7 linked regions of the Homo sapiens genome follow. The protein of the gene in region 3 purifies or fractionates together with the protein of the main gene of each other region. This does not show direct contact. Each region holds a gene or a part of one and is shown on either strand. Other genes may lie near its edges.

Region 1 (3,931 bases), on a different chromosome or scaffold from region 3:
AGTGGTGCGATCTCAGCTCACTGCAACCTCCACCTCCCAGGTTCAAGTGATTCTCCTGCCTCAGCCTCCCGAGTAGCTGGGAATACAGGCACATGCCACCACACCTAGCTAATTTTTTGTATTTTTAGTAGAGACAGGGTTTCACCGTGTTAGCCAGGATGGTCTCAATCTCCTGACCTCATGATCTGCCCGCCTCGGCCTCCCAAAGTGCTGGGATTACAGGTGTGAGCCACCATGCCCAGCCACTAAAAGTTTTTCATGATGATGGTCTTACTTACTATGGTCAAAGTAACTGATACAACATGAAGGGACTTGCCAAATCAGATCAGATACCGTGTTCTAACTCTTTTAATCCTTTTTACTACTTTAACAGTAACCAATTTTTTTTTCTTACAAAGAAGGTAAGGTGAAGGAATTCAGCATTAGGAGAGATAATTTATTCCAGGATTTAGATAACAAATTTAACATAACGTGGATGTTACAATATATCCTATTACTTCCTATTTCTTTCAAGTTATTTCCTATTTCTCTCAAAATTATTTCTCTAAAATCTATGGAGAGAAACAGTTAATAATTTTTTAGTTGCTTGTTATACTTACTCTTAGAAAAACCTGATTTACAATGCTTTTGTTTGCATACATAAAAGTTGTTAGCAGCCCAATTCCAAGAGAAATTCCTGTTAGAAAATAAGTTCCAGTTAATTGAAAGAAAAAAAAATCAAAGAGGATTATATAAGCTAACAATGACACAAATTAAAAATAAACATATACAATAATAAAAGCTCACAGAAAATAAGTAACTGGATGCATTAAGTAGATTACCAATAATGAAAGAAAATTAACTGAATTTAGGAATGAAAACAAGTCAATGTTTTATTATGTCCTACCTGTTATATGCTGCATAACAAGTTTGACGCTCAGAATCAAAATATATGGAAGACTTTTTTGCAGCCACTTGAAGAGATAGCGGAATTCTGAGAAGGAGCTACTACCATGATCTCCAGATTCTGCGGCAGTATCATCAGTCAGCCTTGCTTCACTGTGGGAGTGACCCCGTAAGCGACTGTGTACACATCCATGGGCACAGCTATGGACACCTGACCTTATATTTCTGGAGCTTGCATTTTCTGCACATTCTTTAGGTATGGAGTTTATCTGGATATGAACATCTCCAGAATGAGGGCAAGAACCCTCTCCTGTCAATCTTGTGTGGACACACTGAGGGGTTGAGGCATCCTCACTGCTTCCAGTTCCTGGAGGACTGTGCAGTTGGCTACGATTGGCTTGCATGGCCCTTAAATACTTTTTCTCTGACCCAGATGTCTTTGCTTCAGGCCTCTGTCTCCTAAAAAATCAAATAAAAGATATTCTAAGTAAACAGGCAGTTAAATACCAGCAGTATATTCCTCACTGGGTATCCTTTATTCACTAAAGGAGTAGCAAATAATCACAACAGATGAATTTTCAGGTTATTTATCACTGGACTCCTCCCTTCTCCCTTAATGCCAAGGCTCTGCTGCCCTACACAAATGATCTTTTAGGGAACATTTGCACCAAAAAAAAAAAAGTTGAGCTGCAAATGCTTCCAGTTCTCTAATGGCAGAAGGCATCCGCAAAACAGTCATGAAGTATGGGTACCCAGCAGATGTTAATGAGCACCAGTCCTCACTGGGTACTCTGGTACATTTACTTTTCCCAAATGGTGCAGTTTCATCTCTGATGTAGATTCTACATCAAAGAAGTTTCATAAGGAAGAGTGAGCCAGTATTTTTTAATGGTTGGAAATGTTAGGAAAAAAAACAACATTAAATCTTAATGCCTTATTATCATCATAGGTAACTAATAATAAACACTGCACTTAGGTGACCTACAAATTAGATTTTCTGCTCAAGCAGCTTTCCCAAAGCTCATAAAGTTTCCAATAATTAATGGTGCCACCAATAATATTACCTCCCCGCGCAAAAGAATGTTACCTAAATACATTTAAAGCATAGATACTTTGGAGAGTCACCACGTAATTGCTAGGTAACTCTTTAGTCTGAATAAGCAGTTACACAGTCCGCCCAATAAAATGCCACCGTCGGTGGTGTGTGTATTACGGAGGGAGGGGTGTGAGGAAAGAGGACTCTAGCAGAGAAAGATCTCTCTAATAAATGATCCAGTGTGGACCTCCTAGAAACAGAAGAACAGAGTCGGAATCCCAGCTGACAAAACGCAGAGGCTATCCCACACTGCCGTGCTTTTCCCGTTTGTCTAGGAGGAGGCTAGAGTTAACGTCAGGGAATGTTCTGTGTCATTCTATTTCACTCCCAGGACTGAACAGTGGTGCAGTCACCGTGTCTGGCGGTTTGGGTTTCAGTGCTTTTCACTAAAGGCTTTCACCGAGGCCCCGACGCCACGGGTGTTATTTCGTCAAAACTGAAGAGCGACGTTGGACAGCAGGCTTTCAGTGTCTTTTCTATAAATAACATAGAACCCTCCCACTTTCCTTCATGCACAGACAAGAAAGAGGAGAAAAAAGGGAAGAAAATTCAACACAACTCTTCCGGAATCTCCGAGGGCAGAGTTCTCCACCCACGTCCGAGCCTCGAGTGCCTATTCTCCCCAGAGCCCCCTGCGCCGCGGCCCCTCGCCGCCTCCTCCTCTGCCCGCTTCCCCCAGGCCTAACCTCTCATGACCAGAAGCGGACGGAGGTGTCGGGAGCGACAGCAAGAACAGCGGCATACACCGCCTCCAGCCCTTCAGTCGGGGCCATCAACCGCAAACCCCGCAAGCTCTTCTCTCAGCCCGGCGGCAACGGCGGCGGCGCGCGCGCTCCCCGGACGTTCTCACGCGCGCGCGCGCGCCCTGCCCCGGCTCCACCTCCTAGCCCCGCCCCCGCACCGCGCCGAGTGGAGAGCTCACGGCTGCCGGGGTGTTTTGGCAGCGAGAACAAGCGAGCTGCGCCTGAGAACGGCCTTCAGGCCTGGCGCTAAATAATAAGTCGTTGTTATGTGTTATGTATTTATGTGGCATCCACCACACGCCTCCGAGATCCTGGGCGTTTTGAGGTTAAAAATGTTCAGGCTTGGAGAACCTACCCCTGGAGGAGTGTTAGGGTTTCCGGGCTCGGATGTCCGCGAGCTTGACGCCTGACCTAGTTGTGTCTGTCTGGGCGGTGACGTTTGGTCTGAGCTGACCTTTCCTCACAATCGTGAATTTGGGCTGTGAGGATCAGGCCTTGTCAGAACCCGAGATGAGAGGAGAGAGGTGCGGAGAGTCTGCGTGGGGTGGAAGTAGAAGTTAGAGTTGAAAAACCTGTCTTGCGTGGGGTATAGAGGACCCTACTGCCCTCAAAATAATTATGTTAATCTAAAACTGTTCTAAAATTAAAAGGTTATTAAGAAAACGAAGTTTAGGTCGGGCGCAGTGGCTCACACCTGTAATCCCAGTATTTTGGGAGGCCGAGGCGGGCGGGTCACTTGAGCTCAGGAGGTAGAGACCAGCCTGGCCAACATGGTGAAACCCGTCTCTATTAAAACTACAAAAATTAGCCGGGGGCGTTGGCTCACACTTGTAATCCCCGCTACAGATACTCGGGAAGCTGAGGCATACGAGAATCACTTGAACCCGGGAGGTGGAGTTTGTAGTGAGCCAAGATCGTGCCACTGCACTCCAGCCTGGGCAACAGAGTGAGTGAGACTCGGTCTCAAAAAATAAATAAATAAAATAAATTCTGTTAATCTAAAACTGTTCTAAAATTAAAAGGTCATTAAGAAAACGAAGCTGAGGAGGGGAGTGGTAGCTCACACCTGTAATCCCAGCACTTTGGGAGGCCAAGGCGGGTGGATCACAAGGTCAAGAGATCGTGGCCACATCCTGGCCAATATGGTGAAACCCCGTCTCTACTAAAAATACAAAAATTAGCCGGGTGTGGTGGTGCGTGCCTGTAA
Region 2 (3,500 bases), on a different chromosome or scaffold from region 3:
ACAAGGTCTCTCTTTGTCACCCAGGCTGGCGTGCAGTGGTGCAGCCACTGCAGCCTCGACCTCTAAGGTTCAATCAATTCTCCCACCTCAGCCTCCTGCGTAGCTGAGTAGCTGGCACTACAGATGTGTGCCACCACGCCCAGCTAATTTTTTTTATTTTTTGTAGAGATGGGGTTTCACCATGTTGCTCAGGCTGGGGGAGTCTGTGTGTGTGTGTTTGTGTTAACCAAAATAGGATCATTTGCTGATTATCTACTTTAAAAACATAATTTATGGACCGGGCATGGTGGCTCACGCCCGTAATCCCAGCACTTTGGGAGGCTGAGGCAGGAGGATCGCTTGAACCTAGGAGTTCGAGACCAGCTTGGGCAACACGGTGAGACCTCATCTCTACAAAGAAAACAAAAAAACAAAACCAAAAAAACCCATAATTTATGGTAAACACTTTTTCAAGTTAACAAATATACTTCTAACTCTCATTGTAATGCCTGGTGTTCTCTATCCCTTAGAAGCCTTGATATCATCTTTGATGAGTCAATCTTCCTCATCCTTTACTTCCAGCTGGGTATCAAGTCCTTCCATTACTACCTCTGGAATATGATATATCTGTCTGTCCCTCTCTGATCCCACTATTTTTGGCCTGGCTCAGCTCTCCTCTTTTGTTTTGTTTTGTTTTGTTTTGTTTTGTTTTGTTTTGTTTTGTTTTGTTTTGTGACAGAGTCTTGTTCTGTCTCCCAGGCTGGAGTGCAGTGGCATGATCTCTGCTCTCTGCAACGTCTGCCTCCTGGATTCAAGTGATTTTCCTGCCTCAGCCTCCTGAGTAGTTGGGATTACAGGTGCATGCCACCATGCCCAGCTAATTTTTGTATTTTTAGTAGAGACGTGATTTCGCCATGTTGGCCAGGCTGGTCTCAAACTCCTGACCTCAGGTGATCCACCTGCCTTGGCCTCCCAAAGTGCTGGGATTATAGGCATGAGCCACTGCACTTGGCAGCTCTCCTCATTTATAATCTAGATTGTTGAAGTTTTTTTCCTACCTGATTTCCAGTCATCTATACCTACAATTTTTCTGAACTCTGATTATTTATTTCTGTTAGGTTGCAGATGTTAAATTGAAATTCTTTATCATTTTAGAGTCCTCTGGTAGCCTCTTTTTAACCTTATTACCTACCTATCATTTTTCTTTCTTCCTTCTTCCCTTCTTCTCTTCCCATGCTGGGAGTGCGATGGCGTGATCTCGGCTCACTGCAACCTCCGCCTCCCAGGTTCAAGCAATTCTTCTGCCTCAGCCCCCTGAGTAGCTGGGATTATAGGCACATGTCACCACACCCGGCTAATTTTTGTATTTTTAGTGGAGGTGGGGTTTCACCATGTTGGTCAGGCTGGTCTCGAACTCCTGACGTCAGGGGTGATCCGCCCACCTCAGCCTCCCAAAGTGCTGGGATTACAGGCGTGAGTCACCACACCCAGCCCTTTCCTCTGTTTCTCCTTCTCTTCTTTCCTTCCTCTCTTCCTTCTCTCCCTCTCTTCTCTCTCCCTCCTCCTTCTTCTGCCCCCTGAAATACTTGGACTTCTTTTTTTTCTTTTTCAAGATAGGATATCACTCTGTCACTCAGGCTGGAGTGCAGTGGTGCGATCTTGGCTCACTGCAACCTCCGCCTCCTGGGTTCAAGCTGTTCTCCTGCCTCGGTCTGCCAAGTAGCTGGGATTACAGGCACACGCCACTATGCCTGGCTAATTTTTTGTATTTTTAGTGGAGACTGGGTTTCACCATGTTGGCCAGGCTGGTCTCGAACTCCTGACCTCAGGTAATCCACCCACCTCGGCCTCCCAAAGTGCTGGGATTACAGATGTGAGCCACTGCGCCCGGCCAGGACTTCTTTATATATTGGTATTATTGCTTATTCTTACCAAGTATGCCATACATTTTCATTGCTTTTCCCTCAGTGTGGAATGCGTCTCTACTTTTTGAAATTCTGTTTAATCACCAACCGTAGATTAAATGCCATCTTCTTTTGAAGTCCTCTTCAATTGGAATTAATACCTACCTTTTCGGCTCTTACATTGTATTTTTTGTATGTTTCATTTATATTCTTCCTTGTATTATAATATTCCTATCTTGTTCCTACATGGATATTTCTTTTTTTGTATTTTAAAGATTCACAAATTATTTAACTCATTACAATGATAATCACCAGCAAGTAGTCTTTAAGAAATATTAACATTAAGCTTTTTCTTTCAAAGAAAATGCCAGGAACTTACCAAATCATAAATAAAATGTTTTATCTAATGAATTTTTTGTTAGTATAATTCTAAGCAATCTCTTTGTTATGATTTTGCCCCTTTTAGGCTGGATCAGTGCATGTAAGAATTCGACGAGATGCCAATGAACAAATGGTTCTTGCTCATGTGACCAACAGGCTGTACACTCTAGTGTCTACTCTAACTGTTCAAATTTTCAAGGATGACTGGATTAGGCCTGCCTTATTGTCTGGGCCTGTTGCAGCCAATGTCCTAAACTTTTCAGATCATCACGTAATCCCAATGCCTCTTTTAAAGGGTACTGATGATTTGAACCCAGTTACATCAACTCCAGCTAAACCTAGTAGTCCACCTCCAGAATTTTCATTTAACACTCCTGGGAAAAATGTGAACCCAGTTATTCTTCTAAACACACAAACAAGGCCTTATGGTTTTGGTCTCAATCATGGACACACACCTTACAGCAGCATGCTTAATCAAGGACTTGGAGTTCCAGGAATTGGAGCAACTCAAGGATTGAGGACTGGTTTTACAAATATACCAAGTAGATATGGAACTAATAATAGAATTGGACAACCAAGACCATGATAGACTCTAACTTATTTTTATAAGGAATATTGACTCCTTGGCTTCCAATTTATTTAGTAATCCAACTTTGCATTGACTGTTTAATCATTTACTCTAAATGTTAGATAATAGTAGTCTTGTTCACATTTCATGAAACCTATGAAACTATATTTTTGTAAAATGTATTTGTGACAGTGAAATCCTCGTAAATGTTAAAGGCTTTAAATAGGCTTCCTTTAGAAAATGTGTTTCTTTAAATTTGGATTTTGGTATCTTTGGTTTTGTAGTTGACTGCAGTGTGATGTGACCTTACCTTTATAAGAGCCACTTGATGGAGTAGATCTGTCACATTACTAAGATACGATATTTCTTTTTTTTTCCGAGACGGAGTCTTGCTCTGCCACTGTGCCCGGCCAATACATTATTATTAACTTAAGGCTGTACTTTATTAAGGCTTCCTTAGTTTTTGTTTTGTTTTGTTTTTTGAGATGGAGTCTCACTCTGTCGCCCAGGCTGGAATGCAGTGGCATGATCTCAGCTCACTGCAACCTCTGCCTCCTGAGTTCAAATGATTCTCCTGCCTCAGCCTCCCGAGTAGCTGGGATTACAGGCACCTGCCACCACGCCCAGCTAATTTTTGTATTTTTAGTAAAGACGGGGGATTTCACCAT
Region 3 (3,500 bases):
AACTAGGTAAATGTTGTTTAAATTATGCTTTACAGCCAAAAATCACTGCTTAATGATGCTTACTGCAGTGTTTTTATAGTAGCAAAAAGTGGCAAACCTCAATATCCAATCACGGAGAACTGACTAAAACTGGTAGACTTTCATGCAACCGCTGAAAGGCACCTACGTGTTCAGTCTTTTAACAACCTAGGAAATTGCTCAGAACATTGTGTTCAGTACAAAACCTCAGGGTACAGGACTGAATGTTACAATATGGACTATCGCAGTTTTGCAAAGTAACAATAGACCAACTGCTCCCTCTCAATGTTCCCATGCCCAAAGCCCCAAAGCGCATGCCTGGAAAGGGGGCTGGGAACAAAAGACATCAGGTTCTGGGTAAGATGATGGGTCATTTACATGTTGGTCTTTATATTTTTTCTATTTTTGATGATAAACATGCAGTCCTTTATTCTTAGAAAAAAAGCATTATGGAAAAAATGAAGTCTCTGGGGTGGCAGGGAAAGGCTAGCGGGATAAGCAATTGGGGGTGATGGCAAATGGGTAAGCCACATAAATGACTGAGAGTCGACCGTATGGATGCCACCATGGCAGGGAGAGAAAAGAAAACACTGCCTCGGATTGCCTGAGCTCAGGAGTTCGAGACCAGCCTGGGCAACATGGTGAAACCCTGTCTCTACTAAAATACAAAAAATTAGCGGGGCGTGGTGGCACCCGCCTGTAGTCCCAGCAACTCAGGGGGCTGAGGCAGGAGAATAGCTTTAACCCGGGAGGCGGAGGTTGCAGTGGGTCGAGATCAGGCCACTGCACTCCAGCCTGGGCGACAGAGCGAGACTCCGTCTCTAAAAACAAAAGAAAAAAAAAAAAAAAGAAAGAAAACACCGCGTCTCCCTTCTCCCACCACTGAGAAGGTTAAGGTCAGGTGTCTGAGGGAAGGGCAGTGGGGTTGGGGGTTGCTGGGGGTTAAGGTGCCTCCAACGGGGAGAAAGCTGAGAGATTTCTAATCTGTGGCCTGCAGGGACTGCTTCTGGGAGGGTGTCTCTGAGCTCCCCTGGGCAGGAGCAGTAGCTGTGTGTAGCTAAAGAGTGAGGAAAAAGCTGGCCCCTACTGCAGGCTCTGTTTCCTCTTCCAGGTTTTTTGGCAACCCATAAAGCCAGGCATCTACCACTAGGCACCGGCGGCTTACGCTTATAATCCCAGCACTTTGGGAGGCCTAGGCCAGGGGATCGCTTTAGCCCAGAAATTCCAGACCAGACTGGGCAACATAGTGAGACCTCATCTCTACAAAATTAAAAACAATTAGCCAGTCATGACAGCTCACGCCTGTAGTCCCAGCTACTGGGGAGGGGGAAGTGGCAGAATTGCTTGAGACCAGGAGGTCAAAGCTGTAGTGAGCCGTGATCGCGCCACTGTACTTCAGTCTAGACGACAGAGCAAGATTCTGATTCAAAAAATAAAATTAAAAAACAAAACAAAAAACCAGGCATCTTATGGGATCCCAGAGGAAATGTCATGGGAACTGAGCCTCCCAATAGCTGATACTCTATTTTCCACCCGTCTAGACTTAGAAAGAAGGAATATGAGGTTTCCTTCCCTGAGCGCTGGAAACCCAAATCCACACCTGGGGACCATGTTGGTCCAGGGCCTCCTCTTAGCCTTGAAGCTCAGCTGAGACTCTAATGTAGGCCCTTTAGGCCCAGAGAAGTCACTGGGTGTGGCCAGGTCTGGTGAGCAGCGTCTTGCCCTGCCTGGGCTTTTCTCCTCTAACAGGGTCAGTGTTAAGGGACTCACAGAACAGTGGGGCAGGTGGAGGTGGGGTCTCCAGGCTGGCTTGGTACCTACCCAACCGCAGGATGGAGAAGAACAGCATCCAGAACAGACCCAAGAGTGGCGCAAAGATGGCCTGGGAGACGGCAGCCATGTGGATCTGCTCGTTCAGTTTGGTGGGTGCAAAGGAGTAGTACATGTTATAGCGATCCGTCAAGTGCTTCATGCACAGGTAGAGCAACCCTGGGGGACAAAGGTGGAAACTTACTCAGTGGCCCCTTCAAGTCTGGACCTTTGTGGCTCCAGTGTCTCCACAGGCCTGAGAAGCCAGATCCACGGCTGTCAGAGTCACAACAACCAAGGATGGGTTGGGGGAGCTCCGTGGTACTGACCTCCGGAGCCAGCAGCTTCCCTTGAGCCCCGAGAACTGACTGTTTCAGCTTGGTGAAGAGTCATTCTCTCATGCGTTCATTCAACAAACATCCCCCATCGGCAGCCATCCAACCTCAGCTGCCCTGTACCCCCAGCTTGGCCCTGGCCCTGACCCCTCCCTACCACAGGTCTCCCCATGCTCCAGGAGGTGGACTGATGTTGTGAGGCTCAATTCCTCCTCCCCATCTGCGGATGTGCAGCCCTTGGGCATGCCTTGGAGATGACTCACCAAAAGGCACAATGATGGGGCAAGTGATGCTGTACGCCATCACCACGCTGAACACGTTCATCATCCACGCATACTCACGCCCAAACTGGAAGTCTATGGCCTGGTTCTGGGGCAGAAGGCAGGTGTCACCCTGAGGTGGCCCAGTCCCCTTGGCTTGACTACTTCTGTGGCTCCTCATCAGCCTCCTGGCAGCTCAGGCCTGGAGGCAGCCTCCTTTCCAACCCTGTAGACCAAGGTGCCCCACCAACACCCATCCACACCGTCCCTCCCACCTCAACCCCCTTGGTGCTTCTAGCAGGCTCTATCCCTGACACCCTCCCAAAGGAAACTGAGGGCTGTGCTCAGCGGAGAGCCAGTCTGTACCTTTCTGATGTTGACTCTCTCTGGCTCTGATCTAGAGAAGAAGAGGCGGGTGCTGTAGCAGAAGAGTGACCCCAGACGCAGCAGCTCCATGCCTGTGCCAAGTAAAGCTGCCGTGATCACGTAGTTGACAAAGAAGGCGCCGTTGTCTGGCAGGAACACACACCTGGGCAGTGAGGGAGAGGGAAGGTGGCAACAGAAGCCACAGGGAGAGGGAGAGATGTTAAAAGGGAGGAGAGAGAGGAGAGCAGCAGAGGGAATGGGAATCGGAGTGGAGATACAGATACAGACAAGGAGAATAACATTTCCTCTCTTTCTTTTTCTCTGTCTCTCTCCTATAATATATATGTCCCCAACCCAATGAAGTTAACAAGCAGTCCCCTGAGCAGGGAGGGGCAGGGACCACATAAAGCATGGGTGTGTTAGGGGATACATGCATTGGCTTGATCCAAAGCAAGGGTGTCTGAGCCAGGTCCAAAGACTCGGGAGAATCCATGAGTGGGTTTCTGGGGGGTCTGTAAACTAGGATGGGAAAAAATAACATCTTTATTTTCACTAATCTCTAACTGAAATTTAGCATTTTCTTGCATTAAGAATGTGGGCAATACGGCAGGGCATGGTGGCTCACACCTGTAGTCCCAGCACTTTGGGAGGCCGAGGTGAGCAGATCACCTGAGGTCAGGAGTTTGAGACCAGCCCAGCCAACATGGTGAAA
Region 4 (4,001 bases), on a different chromosome or scaffold from region 3:
CCTTTCAGACAGAAGTGGAAAGAAAAATCAGTGAAGGAAGGGATGTATGTGGACGAGGATTTAGCTTGAGAAATAGCCCAAGAAAGAAACCTCCATCAAATTATTAGGAAAGGGCAAACTCTGTGAGGGGAATAGAAATAGAAAGGGACTTAATACAGAAAATTAGGTGTTGACAAAATCATTGAAAGAGCTAGAGGAGCACAAGTCAGGTGCCTCTGGAGCTATGGTGTTCAAGAGCATACAACCATAGCTCTTTTCTGGGTTAAAAGGAGCGCCTCTGCTAGCTCCTGCCTCTAATTTCCTCTCAATACCCATGAGGCTATCCATGACTCCGGAACACGAAGTGAGCGTGCCAAGTAGAAAAGACGGCAGGAAGATGGCCTCTGTCTCATTTCCAGCTAATTAGTTTTGGTTCTGTTCCTGTTTATATCATTGTTTTCATGGAAAAGTTCACCTTAAGTTCTAAATCATTAACTTAGAAACCAATCTTTCAAAAATATTCCATTTGTAATCTGGAGTCCTTGTATCCTTAAACCAACCAACAGGACAAACAAAAATCATCTCCCTAAATAAAAACTAAATAAAATGAGTCCTTGGGATATGTTCCATAGTTGTTAATTTCATTTCTTCCTCAAATATCTTTACACATGTAATACTATTTCTACCATCATTACATGGCAATGCATAATTTCATTTACAGAACTTGAAAAAAACTAGAAAACAAGGCTTTGTGATAACATTACCAAGAAACGTTTTATCAGAAAAGCTTGCTTTTTACAACAATGGGTTGGGTTGCACCAATTTTTTGCTTATTTTTGTCTTCTTGACTAATTCTTCTTTGGTGCTAATGTAGTAGGAAATGCCTATCTCCGGTGTGATTTTCAATTATTGTGTATGGGGGCTTAGAATACATTAATAAATCTTGAGGCAAAAACAGAATGATAAAAATAACACTTCAAAGGAGTACAGGAGAATGAACTTTCATGACATTCAATGAAGGAGGCAGGTATGCAAAGTGATATGTTTTCTAAGATGTACTTTTCATTTTTTGTTTTATCCTTTTACTTTGTACCATAAGCAATTTTGGAAAGACCACAACTATTAGTGATGTCTACATAATCATACTAATGAAGTACACAGAAGCTTAAATGAAGTATTTTTATATGCTCCCTTACAACTATTTGAAAATTTACTTTGGAAACCCCTGCTCAAATGCAACCCCTCCCCACCCCCAAAGGAATTCTTGTGCTGTCTTCTTCACTTTTCCAGTTAAGCAATTTAAGTTAGAGGAAATCAAGCCCTTGAGCAAATGAATAGTTAACGGGAAAAACCACTAGGAAGGGAATCCGAAGAACAAGCTACCAAATTATTTGCTTGAGTCACTTTCTCTTATATTGTCACAGATGAAAAATTACACTCCACGTGGTGATCAAACCTAACGCTAAGGCATATTTTGTGTGCCACACAGTATTACTCTGTTTCCTAAGTAACCTATTGAAACAATGTAAGGTATACATCTATTAATGCATTTAGTGATGATACTGGAATTTGTGAAACGTGACAGAAAGGACAGATGAAGAAAGATGAGGAGAGACAGGTATTAATTGTCCTAACAGTACAGGCTGTAATAAAGGCCAATAATCATTTGAATTCCTGCTCCTTAATGTGAGTCTAAAGAGCGGCTTACCTCAGGTATTTGGAAAGTCTAAATACTGTATTTGCTGTAGAAAATTCATCCAACATACAATTCAATTTTTAAAATTAAACCTTTTGCCTAATCTTTAAGATATTTGATGTTATAATGCCCATTATCACACTTTATTTAAATGAGATAAACTCAGAGAGTTTAAAAAATTACGCAACTTCTCTTTTCCCTTACTATGGCTGGCCTCTTATAACCGAAAGCAATATTCTTGCCTCTCCACTTTTTAACTGAAGCTTTGATCTCATCTGTATTTATGAAGAACGTGCTCTGGGAGAGTCCCTGTCAAGACATTCATTGTAACACCCGCTCCTACTCATGCTTTCAGCGCTGCCCGTGGACGGAATCCACCCACACCTTCCAGACACGCTAGGTGTGGGCTCGGAAACGCAAGATGGAGGGCGGGAGGGGAGCCGGCGTCTCCTAAACCTGGCGCAGGGCACGGACTCGAAGTTGAAAAAGAAGTGTTTACAAGTGAGGCTTTTAAATAAATCACCGCTATGGAGGGCATTTCCTCCGAGCCCTGGGCGCCAGCCTGAGAATCCTCTGCCGGACGCCAGGGGACGAACCACGCTGACCCCGCCAGACACGCGACCCCGGGGCCGGCGCTGGCGTCTGCACTCGCGCGACCCCGCCGCTCCTCCTGGGAGCGCCGTCTAACCGCTCCCGGCGACGACTTCCCAGAGCGCCGGGGAGCCAGTGCCCACGCGGGGCAGAGCTGCGGCGCGGCCCGCGGGCCGGGCCCCTTCCCTCCAACGCCGGGCGGGGCTCGCGGCCCCCGACCCGGCCGCTTCGCCGCCGCCCCTCCCCGCGCTCACCTGCTCGCTCTCCTTCGGCCGCTGTCCGCGCCGCCGCGGGCTCGCCCCGGGATCCCACCCGGTCCCTGCCGCCTCCCGCTCCGCCAGCGCGTCCCCGTCCTCGTCGCGTTCCCCGCCGTCGCCGCCCCGCAGCAGCTCCCCGGCTGAGCACATCCCGCAGCCAACTCCTACCGCCCCGGACAGCCGCCGGAGGACCACGCCGCGACGCACCAGGCAGCGCCGCCGCCCGAAGGCTGCCCTGGGATCCGCCGCACCCGCCGCTGACAGGAGCCGCCGGAGCGCGCCCCGCCGGCCTGGGCGCCTGAAGTACCAGCCCGGCCCCTCCTGTCACTGGCTCGCCCAACCCCCGGCCGTCGGGGCGGAGCCGTACAGGGGAGGGGCCAAGACAGGGGGCGGGGCCAACGGTGTGTTGGGGGGCGGGGGTGTGTGTGTGAGATTGAGAGAGAGGCCGACAGACTGAGAGAAGAAGGGTGTTGTGTGAAAAACTATGGACATACACTGCATGAGGGAGATTGTACATGAGAGAGGCTGTGTGTATGTATGAGGGATATTGTGTGTGCGTAAGAGACCGTTAGAGAGTGTGAGAGAGACGCTGAGCGTGATTTGTGTGTGTGTGTGAGAGAGATTCTATATAAAAGAAACTGCGTATAAGAGATTGTATGCACTTTGGGAGGCCGAGGCGGGCAGATAGCTTGAGCCCAGGAGTTGGAGACCAGCCTGGGCAACCCCATCTCTACTAAAAATAGAATTAGGCGGGCGTGGTGGCGGCAGTGTGGTCCCAGCTACTCAGGAGGCTGAGGTGGGAGGATCGTCTCAGCGCGGGAAGTCGAGGCTGCAGTGAGCAGAGATCACACCACTGCACTCCAGCGTGGGCGACAGAACCAGACCCCGTTTCAGAGAGAGAGAGAGAGAGAGAGAGGAGGGGGGGGGGAAAGAGAGAGAGAGAGAGAGAGAGAGAGAGATTGAGATTGTATGTGTATGCAAGAGACTGTGAGAGAGAGATTGTATGAGGGAACAACAGAAACTGAGAGAGATCAAGTGTGAAAGAGAAATTACTTGTGTGAGAGAGCCAGTGCATATATTTAAGAGAGAGCGCATTTGTATAAGAGATTAGTGTGTGTGGGTTTGTATGTGAGAGAGAAACACACACATGCACCCAGTTACACTCTCCAGCAGAGTACCCCTGTTCTTGCCTGAGTATCTGCCCGTCCTTTTCAAGGAAGACACATTTCACTGTCCCTCTTGTTCCTTTAGCCTCCTTTCCTAGTGTCTCACTGAAGGTCTGTGTATTTGTCCCTTTCTGTTGAGTGCTTCCTAGTGTGTGTTGTTTGTTGGAGCCTTGGGTCGTTTGATGGTGTATCAAATGATGTATCTTTCTGTAACTGGGTAAGAATATGTCTTTCTCAGTGGGTGGTGAGGGGAATATATCCAATTGATAATTATTTTTTGTACTACTCCATCCATTTTATTCAAGGAAAATG
Region 5 (3,969 bases), on a different chromosome or scaffold from region 3:
GACACAGGTTCTGAAGCTGCTGGGGGCCTTGGGCTAACAAGTGCCATCCAGAGCCTCCATCCCATACCCCTAAAATGGAGGTGACCACCTCCATCCCAGAGCCTTGAGAATTTAGGACAGTGAGGACCAGGCACTGGGCCAGGTTCCTGCAAAGTGTGCACCAGCAAGTGTTGTCGAATCTGCAGTTTCTCACACCACAGAGGCCCCAGCACCTGGCACAGTCCTCACTAGGCTGGAGGCCTCAGGATGCACCAGAGGACACACGAACGAGGTTTGGAAAGGCCTGTGAAACATGTCTGAGGATGGGTGTCCTGAGAGCTGTGTATGCCTAGTAACAAAAGACCTCCCAGGGCAGCCAGGCAGTTGCTGGTGGCCTTGAGCTGTGACCCCTGCCATTCCCTGCCCAGAGCCCACTGTCATCCTCCCTTAAGTACCAGGTTCCTGGTAGCCAATCCTTCCTCTCTATCTTTCAAGACACAATACCTCCCCTGCACCACACACCCCTCCCTCAAGGTCAGAGCTCCCGGGAGCACTCTGGCAAATCTCCCCACCCCTCTGCCCAGTGTGAATGGGTCTCAGCTGCTCTGGGACAGGGACTGTATGATTCCTGCCAGGCTGCCCAGCACGGAGCACCACTCTACCTTGTGCTTGCACAGAAGGGCCTTGAGATCCCTCTCTTCACCCAGGCTGGGCCAGGCACCTCATCTGGGCCCTCACAGGACAGTGCTGTGCCAAGACCATGTGTGACCTCATGCCCAGCACAGGGCCTGGCCTGTGCAGCCGCCTGGATGGATTACATTTACTCAGGGAATTGTGAACTTGCTCTCGTTTTTAGACAACTGAAGGGAAATTGAACCTGGGAAAAGGGAAGTGACATGTCCAAGGTCACAGAAGTGGAAGAGACAGTGCCAAGGCCAAGGCCCAGGAAAGGGCCTGGCTCCAGAGCCCTTTCCATTTACTTTACACCCATCTGTTGAGGTCTGCTCTGGCTCTAAAATGAAAGCATTAAGAGCCTTCCCGCTGAGGTCAATACTATTATTACCACTCCCACTCTGTCCTGGTGGAAAGTAAGGCACTGAAGTTACTCGTCTAAGGCCACGAAGGTGAGTGGTGGGGCTGGGACTTGAACCCAGGCCTGCCCAGTCCCAGAGCTCTTGGGGAATACAACCCAGTGCCTGCACACACTCTGGCAGTGCACCAGGGAGGGGCCAGGCCGGGTGCCCGGATGGATGGATAAGACATGAGATAAGCAAGCAGGAATCTGATCTGGATGTTCTCTGAGGCCGTGCGTGGCCGGAGGACCACAGGGACTGCGCAGAGGCAGGCAGGTGAATGTCAGCAGCGTTTAGCCAAAGAGGCTTACGGTCTTCAGAGGAGCTAAGCCAGGATCAACGCAACTGTGCTTCCCGGCGCTGGGGTCAATCGGATCCCCAGATGGGTTCTAAGCACTGCGCAACATGGGACCTGGGAGCAGGACACCGCAAAGAGCAGACCAAGCCATTCCTTCCCTAAAGCCCTGACCATCCCCCGGACTGGGCTGGGTCAAAATGCCTTCCCTGGCTCCCACAGCCCCCAGACCTCTCCATCAGGGGTCTGGTCACCTTGGATGGCGACTCTGTCGCCCGGGTCTCAGTCTCTGCCTTCCACCCAGACTCCAAGCCCTTGTTCATCTCCCTGCTCCCTGTCTCTAGTGCCCGGCACAGGGCCTGGCACTGGAAAAACTTCTGCCTCCACTCACTCCTGCCTTCTGTGTCTGTGGGTCACTTTTCTGTGCGACTCTGCAGGTCCCAGAGCACTCATCCACATGAATTGGGGTCAGCTCCCTGGACTGGGGGTCGGGGTGGGGTGTCAGGAGGGCGGGGCTCCACTCTGATCCACTCGGCACAGGGGAGGGAGGCCTCAGGAGTCGCCACCCGATCCAGTCCCCGCCTTCGCCCTGCCCCGTGGGCCACGCGGTGGCTGACCTTGGCCCAGTCACTTCCCCCGCTGGGGACGCGCTTCCTCCCCGCCTGCCGAGCAAGGACGAATGAATGGGCCTCCTGCCGGCCAGAATCCCCGTAATTACCCGCCTGATCAAAGGCCACGCGCAGCCCGCCCGGGGCAGCAACGGGACCCGGGCTGACTCGAAAAGGGGAAGGAAGGGCTGGGGGGGCCGAGGGCTGAGACCGTGCCCTCGGGGCCGCGGTATCCGGCCAGGCCAGCCCAACCGCGCGGCCCCTTCCCCCACCTGGGCCTCAACTTCCCCCCGAAGTCGCCACCACTTCCGGCCACGACCGGCGGAGTTGGAACTTCGGGGGGACGGACAGCGGCCCCACCCCCGACGGCCCGCAGCAGAGGGACCCCCACCGAGGCCCCCGCTCCTGCCCCCGCCACGCGCACGCGCGCGCCCTGGACCCGGACCCGCGCACGCGCACCCCCCCTCCAGCCCCGCTCGCCGCCCGCGGGCCGCCCGGGCGCGCGTCCCCTCCCACAGCTCTTCGGCGCGCACGCGCACTCCCCCCGCCCGCGTCACCCCGGCCGCGCGCCCACTCACGCCCCCCCAGCAGCGCGCACGCGCGCCCGCCGCCCAGTCGCGCTCGCCCTCCAGTCTCCCCACCCACCCCCAGCCCAAGCCCAGCTTCCCGAAGCGCGCGCCCACCTGGCCCCCAGCGCACGGCCCCCGCCCCCACCCCTCACCTCCTTGGTCCCGGGGCCGCCGCGCCGCACTCCTCCTCCTCTCTCCTGCCTCGCGGATGGTGGCAGCGGCGGCAGCGGCGACTCAGACCCTGGGGTCAGGGGGACGGGCGCCCAGGCCGGAAGTGACCTTCCCGGCCGCTTCCGCCCGCGCCGCTCCCCCCCTTCTCCCTACTCCCTGCCCCCCGGGCCGCCACCCTGTCCTCGCCGCTCTAGGAAGGCGAGCCCGCTATCCCGGCCACCGCCCCCAGCTCTGTGGTGCCCGGCGGGCGCCTGAGGGAGCCACTTCCGGAAGTGTCTAGGACGCAGGTCCTCCGTCCATGCTCTATGGCGCCCCGCGCCGAGGGGCTTCGGCCCCGCCCCCTTCCCGGACAGGAGGTGCGGGCTGGGCCCGTTAGGCGGAGACTTCCGGGTGTCTAGGGCGGTGCCCCCCCGACAACCCGGGCTCCTCGCGCCTGCGCGGCCGGGTCCCCGGGCCCGCCGTGAGGAGAGTGAAGTGGTGGAGAGGGACGCTCGTGCCACCCCGGGTCCTCCTACCGTCTCTATCATGGTAACCCCTTCTCTGCCGCTGCACCTCCCAGTGGCCCGAGTCCAGGTGCCTTAGTTACTGGACAGAGACCCCGGGTTCCTTAGTTACTGGACAGAGAGTGCTGCGCTTCAGGTGCCATGGCCTCAGTTTCCTCCTTTCTGAAGTGATGAAAATACATTGTGCGCCTCCAAGTGCTTCACACGCACTAGGTCCTAGTCCTAACTAGGGCCTCATGGTAGGTCCTATCCCTATGTTGCAGGTGAGGAGTCAAATCACCTACCAAAAGTCACACACCCGGAATGCCAGAGCCTCGGCCCGAACCCATGGAGTTTGGCTCTAAATTCGTGTATTTAACCCTTGACTGTACACACTGCCTCGTGTCATAGCCCTGAGAATCCACTACTTCCCCCGCGTTAGGTAGGCACCTAGTAAGGACGCACTGGGTGTTAGCTGTTACTGTTGGTATTCTTGCAAAAAACACATATTTTAAAATAATTGTCCAAACCATAGTGTCCTTGTAGGCTGGTCCTTCTGGTCCTTCCTCTGTTCTGTACTTGGCTGACTCTCACCTAAGTGGCAGATGACTTATCGCTTATAATTGTTATCATCCTCACTGGTAGTCAGAAAAGATAAGAAGCTATAATTCACTGGTGGAATAACACCTTTCTCAGCCTCAATTTCTCATCTGTGGAATGGGAAAAAATAAGATAACCTGCAAGGTAATATGTGTAAGAGCTGCTTAGTTCAATACCTGGCCCATAGTAAGT
Region 6 (2,911 bases), on a different chromosome or scaffold from region 3:
ACAGTCACTTAATGATCCTTCCAAGTTCAGAGTCATGATAATTCAGGCAGCTCAGCTCCACAGGAAGGCCCAGAACCACACAGCCCAGGCAGTGACTGAATTCTTCCTAGTCACCAGTGGAGGGCTGCCTGCCTGTGAGGGACCTCTTATTTTGTGTACAGAATTTATGTTAGACAGGGTCCTGCTTCCTAAAGAGCAGCAGGGATGTTGTCCTGAACAGATGCAAGATTGCCACAGAAAAGATGAGGGGTCATGGGGTTGGGGAGGACGGAGGCATCCTCGGGAAAGGTTCTGCTTTGCCAGTCTGGCTAGAATCACCTGAGACATGAGGATGCTCTCCCACTTTCTACTTGACACTCAGCCTACCGTCTTGCTCTGCCACTACAAGACCTGGGTCATCCTCTCTGGGCCAATGTTCTCATTCATAGAACCAGGGATAATACATCTACTTCAGAGTTGTGAGGAGGTTTAAGTAAGAAAATATGTGTGAGAGCCCCTGCTTTTATAGTAGGCACTCAATAAATGTTGAATGAATGAAAAATCATCTCAAATCACAAACTATAGGATACTGGGTTAAACAAAGTGGCTGCTGGGGCCAAAGCTAGACCCCCATATCCAAGGAGAGAGGATCTGTCTCCTCTATCTCTAGGCTTGAGCAAACAGCCTGGAGAGCTGGCAATGCCTCCTCCTGGGTCTGACCATCTGCCTCTGTGGGATGTAGGAACTCAGCCTAAGTGCGATGACACCAATGATGATACTGAGGGGAAATGACCGAAGGGACATTCTCTGGGTTCTATGATGGAGTAGGGAGGCTTCGTGGAGGAGATGAGGCTCGGTCTTGCATTATACCTTCGCCCTGGCCCCCGCCTCCAGATGCTGCTCAGTAGTTTTAATTTCTGGACTCTCTAAAGGAGAGAGGGTTAAGGAAATAAAGGAATCTCAAATTAGGCAGTTTGCTAATGCTACTAACTGAGCAGAGATTGGAATAATAGAAAACTATTGACTACAATAGTTTAAATTTCTCCATATTCCCCTAGAAAATGGAAAGCTGGGCAGGAACATGTTCCAAAGGCTAAATCTTGGCGGAGATGATGACTCTAATGAAGGGAGAGGTATAATTCTTGGTAGACAGTGTAAATAACTAATATTAAGCTTTGGCTAAGCCTAGGAATGCCTGGTTCTTAAGACTTCACTGAAGAAGGGAAGAAGGAAGAAAGCATGGATCTGCTCTGGGATGCCCTGAACTCCATTCACATAGGCAGGGTAGGCATGGAGCAGGGAGACGGAATCCAATGCCTTGCCATTAATTTAACTTAGATGAACTACTCCTGGTCCCTGGAGCCACTCCCCAGGAAGGATCCTGTGAAGACACATCTGGCTCTCGTGCCCATGCTCCTGCCACTCTGCCCAACCAACGAAGTTAGCAAATAGTAAAGTGTTCATCATTACCTAGTTTTGTATTATAAAATGGAATCAGGAACATAAATAGGAACAAGTAGCAAAACCCCAGCCCTGCGTAGGACCATTATCCTCTCAGCCACCTCTGCGTAGGCCAATGAGTTTGGAAAGTTTCTCACAGTTTTCAAGTTTCAGCGACTCTGCTTTCTGTTTCAATCGTTCATCTCTGTATAATCCTGCCAAATTTGTCAGCTCTGACTCTGAAAGATAAAAGAGGTAACCAATTCATCAAGAGCTGAACTCCTTTGTTTCATTTCAATGTTTCTGGAGTCAAAGCTCCTTTTACTTCATTTCAAGCTTTTTCTTACAATTAAATATAAGAAACATTTAGTCATTTATTCACAAAACACGTCTTAGGTACTAGACCAGGTGTGGAGGATTAAAGGGCACCTGTGACCCTGCAGTCCAACAGTATCTGTGCTCTCTTATAAAAGCACTGGACTTAGTTCTTACCAAGAAAACATTTGGCACCAGACTTAGGAAACCTGCGCATGTGCAGTGAGACCACCCTATAGCCTCCTACAAACGGGATTCCAACAGCAGCTGGGAGAGAATGGAGTCCAGTGGCCTATTCCTGTCATCTGAAACAGACAGCTGCTTTATTCTTCTCCTGCATTGCTGCATCATAACTCACATGTGCGAAGGCACACAGAGCCTACTGCTGCCGGGTGTGCGTCCACAGAAGGCCAGGGCACTACTGGCGCTGTTCATTCCCTCACCACACGTAGGGTCCCCAACTCAAAGGCCAAAGGCAGCTGGGCCTTTCTAAAAGTTGAATCATCTGGATCCGGTGACCTTTGTCTCCTTGACTAAATTAATTTCATTTTCTCTTTATGGTGGAGAAGGTCATTCTATTTTTAACCAGAATATAATCTCTGCTGTGTTTCCTGACTCAACAGTGGTTTGGTTGCCTCTATTTTTTATTCTTTTGTGAGGTTTCAGACATATTCAGGGAGGAATGCCTGAAGAGCACCTTTAGAGACGTATTGCGTATTAACAGGATGGCATGCTTGGATGTGGTGTGTGTTTCCTGAAAGCCTCCAACAGCAGGCAGCTACTCAATGTTTAAAGGACCAGACTTGTAAAAATGCTATTTTAATTGTTTTGAAATATGCCTATCTATTCTTAATCATCTTGCTGACAGATTTTGTTTTTCTTGGTGGAACGAAAGACACCTGTCTGATTAATCAGCAAACTGCCTGGAAACGGAATTATTATTTAGCCAGGGGGAACAATGGGCATTGCTTTCTGAATACGTTTCTATCAACACAAAACACTGTCTGGCATTTCTGTGCACAATGATGCTATTTACCCCCAAGTAAGGCCCAAAGTGCAGATTAAGTGCAGGACTCCAGAGTGAGGGATGGATATGCATAAAAACCCTCCCTCTACAATGGAGGCCGCACAGCCTGGGCTCTAGCCCAGCAGTTGCTTGGCAAGCAGTGGGTCTCCC
Region 7 (3,500 bases), on a different chromosome or scaffold from region 3:
TAATAAAATGTTTGTTTAATGAATGGATAAAATACTTTATAAGCCATGAAAGTTAGGTAATGCCATCCAATAAACATAAACACAGTATAGCAATTAATTTCTTATTATTGAAAGTTGGTGACATATAACCTAAGAAAACCACTTTTAAAAATCCCCAAATACAGAAGTGGCATCAGTTTGCAAATATAGTATCCAGAGAAACATTTACCACATTAAAGCAAAGAACCAAGTAATTACACACAATACCCTCTGTATACCGTTCAACTGATTTCCACATAAAGGAAATGTATAGCTCAATCCATTTCATTAACAAAGTATTCATTCTCTCGACAATGAAAAAGTAATCTCAAGTAGGGCAACTTAAAACTTAATAGTTCTTTAATGCAATGTGCAGTACCTTCTTGTTGTTTTCTGAAGTAGGGCTGAGAATGGTCAGTTCTGGTCTACTTGGTTTAGGCTTTGGAGACTCACAAGAATTAATGAAATTCATGATAAAAGGTTCCAAATGCTGACCTTTCTGTGGTGATAGATTATTGTAAGAAAATAAAAAATAAAGGTAATTTTTAGTACATAATCCAGCAAAATTTATCAATATTTAAATATGTTTATGATTATCATGTTATAGAACACACATAAATCAGTTACTCACCTCTTTCATTAGTTTTCCAGGAACAGATTTTATAATTTTCCCTGCAATTAAAAGTAAAACATTATTTTAGGAAGGCATAAAACTCTTCATAATTGCTCACATGAATACTTAACCAGGTAATTTTAAATACGAAATAGCCAAGTTAAAACTGTAAAAGTATTTATGATTGACCATTTCACACTCCATGGAAATTTTCAATAAATATGGTATTCTGAAATATTTATAGATAGAATATTTGGGATTTACTTTAAAAAAATCCAGTGAGGTAAGTGGTGGGAGAAGGGATGGAACAAGCCAAGGGTTGATAACAACGTTGAGTAAGAAGTTTATTACATAATTTTGTCTACTTTTGTGAAAATTTCTATAAGAAATATTTTCAAAGGGTTTTCAGTAACAGTGAATATATAATGGTATCTAAAGATATGCAAAGGTCAGTCAAAAAAAAGTTTTAAGAACTGCCTCAATATTTAAAACTATTTCAGTAGTTTATATTCTGAATTTTAGATTAAGAATTTCTATTCTAAATCCTATGTTTGCCAAAATTACTTCTTGATCTCCAGCTTCCCTTAATTTGAAACATCAAACATCTTGAGATTTTCTCCAGCATTTAGAAATGACTTAAAAATCAATCAAAATTGATAAATACAACTTAAACTGCTTTCTGAACAAATCAGAAAAAAGTAGATTTATGGCAATAGAAGGGGACATTAATAATAAAGAATAAAAATACTGTTTTGTGACAGGCAAACCACCCAACCTTCCCATTTGGCTATTTCTGGTATTTCTGGTTCTCATAACACCCCCTCCTTAGAATGTTCCCAAGTTCTTTAAATTATATGGTTTCATCCTATGCTTTTCTGTCTTCTATGTGTTCTTACTGAGCCAAATTATTTGCTCAATCTGATTTCAAATAAAATTCAAATCTCTAATCTCTGCCTGTCTCCTGGACTCTCCTGCTTTATAAAACTTCAACTGGATTCTATAAACTCAGTAAGTTCAAAACTGCTCTTAATGTATCCCCTATTCCAACAAGTAACAGCATTCATCCAGTTATTTAAATAGAAACTTGGATCATCCCTGATCATTTCTTCTTCAATCAAACCTAGTCAGTAACCAGGAATACCCAATCTCCTAAATGCCATATATAACCAAATATTTTGTCCTCACTTTTTTCCCCCAATAAAAAGATACACAAACACTAAATATTTTGACTCAAATAAATGTATTGATTTGGGTGGGGGTGTGGGTATAGACAGAAGCCAAATGTCTACTTGCATTATTTAACTCACTGATTTAGTTCCATATACATTACTTCAGATTACATCATATAAAATATATTTAGAGGCTAGTCAGGGTGGCTCCACGCCTGTAAGTCCAACAATTTGGGAACCTAAGGTGGAAAGATCAATTGAGGAGTTCAAGACCAGCTTGGGCAACAAAGCGAGATCCCATCTCTACAGATATTTAAAAATTAGCCAGGTGTGCTGGTGTGTACCTGTAGTCTTAGCTACTTTGGGAGGCTGAGGCAGGAAGGATCACTTGAGCCCAGGATTTGAGGCTGCAGTGAACTATGATTGTGTTGGCTGGGCGTGGTGGCTCACGCCTGTAATCCCAGCACTTTGGGAGGCCGAGGCGGGCGGATCCCGAGGTCAGGAGTTCGAGACCAGCCTGACCAACATGGTGAAACCCCGTCTCTTCTAAAAATACAAAAATTAGCCGGACGTGGTGGCACACGCCTGTTATCCCAGCTACTAAGGAGACCAAGGCAGGAGAATCGCTTGAACCCGGGAGATGGAGGTTGCAGTGAACTGAGATCGTGCCACTGAACTCCAGCTGGGTGACAGAGTGAGACTCCGTCTCAAAAAACAAAACAAAACAAAACAAAAAAAAACTATGATTGTGCCACTGCACTCCAGCCTAGGCAATAGTGTGAGACTCTGTCTCTAAAAACCATAATGAATACAAATGAATAAAAAATAAAATATATTTAGAAATATTGCTTTTATACAGTAGTAGTAGTAGTAGTAGTAGTAGCAGTAGTAGTAGTAGTAATAGTAGTAGAGATGTAGTCTCACTCTGTCGCCCAGGCTGGAGTGCAGTGGCATGATCTCGGCTCCCTCCACTTGCCAGTTTCAAGCAATTCTCCTGCCTAGGCCACCCAAGTAGCTGGGATTATAGGTGCACGCCACCACGCCCAGCTAATTTTTGTATTTTTAGTAGAGACAAGGATTCACCATGTTGGCCAGGCTGGTCTTGAACTCCTGACCTCAAGTGATCCACCCACCTCGGCCTCCTAAAATGCTGGGATTACAGGTGTGAGCCACTGCAACTAGTCAATGCTATATTATTTTTTACCTTTTTTTTTTTTTAGATGGAGTTTTGCTCTGTTGCCCAGGCTGGAGTGCAGTGGTGCAATCTCGGCTCACTGTAACCTCCACTTCCCAGGTTCAAGCAATTCTCCTGCCTCAGCCTCTTGAGTAGCTGGGACTACAGGCGCCCACCACCATGCCCAGCTAATTTTTGTGTTTTTAGTAGAGACAGGGTTTCACCATGTTGCTCACACTGGTCTTGAACTTCTAAGTTCAAGTGATCCATCTGCCTCAGCCTCCCAAATTGCTGGGACTACAGGTGTGAGCCACCACGCCCAACGATTTTTTAACAATTTTATTCAAACTTTTCCAGCTTACACTAGTTTGGTCTGTTTTGATGTTTATGTAAAAAGAATCAGACTGTATATATTCTTTCATGTTTTGTTTCTTTCATTCAACATTTTTAAAAGTTCATCCACATTGTTGCTAGTAGCCTCATGATATGGGTATTCAACGTTATGACTTTACCACAGTTTATCTGT

What was found.
Region 1: the proteins of TMEM63C (region 3) and RNFT1 purify together in Homo sapiens (affinity purification with mass spectrometry; one large-scale study listed by BioGRID and IntAct). This does not show direct contact.
Region 2: the proteins of TMEM63C (region 3) and SLC30A6 purify together in Homo sapiens (affinity purification with mass spectrometry; one large-scale study listed by BioGRID and IntAct). This does not show direct contact.
Region 4: the proteins of TMEM63C (region 3) and FAM241A purify together in Homo sapiens (affinity purification with mass spectrometry; one large-scale study listed by BioGRID and IntAct). This does not show direct contact.
Region 5: the proteins of TMEM63C (region 3) and ZNF787 purify together in Homo sapiens (affinity purification with mass spectrometry; one large-scale study listed by BioGRID and IntAct). This does not show direct contact.
Region 6: the proteins of TMEM63C (region 3) and DNAJC18 purify together in Homo sapiens (affinity purification with mass spectrometry; one large-scale study listed by BioGRID and IntAct). This does not show direct contact.
Region 7: the proteins of TMEM63C (region 3) and SNX14 purify together in Homo sapiens (affinity purification with mass spectrometry; one large-scale study listed by BioGRID and IntAct). This does not show direct contact.

What each region holds. Positions count from the first base shown.
Region 1 is NC_000017.11:59,961,941-59,965,871, forward strand, and holds the start of RNFT1 (E3 ubiquitin-protein ligase RNFT1), read right to left. Parts: upstream 2,801-3,931; 5' UTR 2,724-2,800; coding exon 2,668-2,723; intron 1,345-2,667; coding exon 887-1,344; intron 677-886; coding exon 600-676; exon of another isoform or gene 423-599; intron 1-422. UniProt on the Homo sapiens protein: E3 ubiquitin-protein ligase that acts in the endoplasmic reticulum (ER)-associated degradation (ERAD) pathway, which targets misfolded proteins that accumulate in the endoplasmic reticulum (ER) for ubiquitination and subsequent proteasome-mediated degradation.
Region 2 is NC_000002.12:32,217,864-32,221,363, forward strand, and holds part of SLC30A6 (zinc transporter 6), read left to right. Parts: intron 1-2,349; coding exon 2,350-2,850; 3' UTR 2,851-3,500. UniProt on the Homo sapiens protein: Has probably no intrinsic transporter activity but together with SLC30A5 forms a functional zinc ion:proton antiporter heterodimer, mediating zinc entry into the lumen of organelles along the secretory pathway.
Region 3 is NC_000014.9:77,247,798-77,251,297, reverse strand, and holds part of TMEM63C (osmosensitive cation channel TMEM63C), read right to left. Parts: intron 2,952-3,500; coding exon 2,789-2,951; intron 2,532-2,788; coding exon 2,426-2,531; intron 2,008-2,425; coding exon 1,840-2,007; intron 1-1,839.
Region 4 is NC_000004.12:112,144,253-112,148,253, reverse strand, and holds the start of FAM241A (uncharacterized protein FAM241A), read right to left. Parts: upstream 2,801-4,001; 5' UTR 2,674-2,800; coding exon 2,521-2,673; intron 1-2,520.
Region 5 is NC_000019.10:56,118,496-56,122,464, forward strand, and holds the start of ZNF787 (zinc finger protein 787), read right to left. Parts: upstream 2,801-3,969; 5' UTR 2,677-2,800; intron 1-2,676. UniProt on the Homo sapiens protein: May be involved in transcriptional regulation.
Region 6 is NC_000005.10:139,412,615-139,415,525, forward strand, and holds part of DNAJC18 (dnaJ homolog subfamily C member 18), read right to left. Parts: intron 1,659-2,911; coding exon 1,534-1,658; 3' UTR 1-1,533.
Region 7 is NC_000006.12:85,517,359-85,520,858, forward strand, and holds part of SNX14 (sorting nexin-14), read right to left. Parts: intron 691-3,500; coding exon 650-690; intron 518-649; coding exon 398-517; intron 1-397. UniProt on the Homo sapiens protein: Plays a role in maintaining normal neuronal excitability and synaptic transmission. May be involved in several stages of intracellular trafficking. Required for autophagosome clearance, possibly by mediating the fusion of lysosomes with autophagosomes.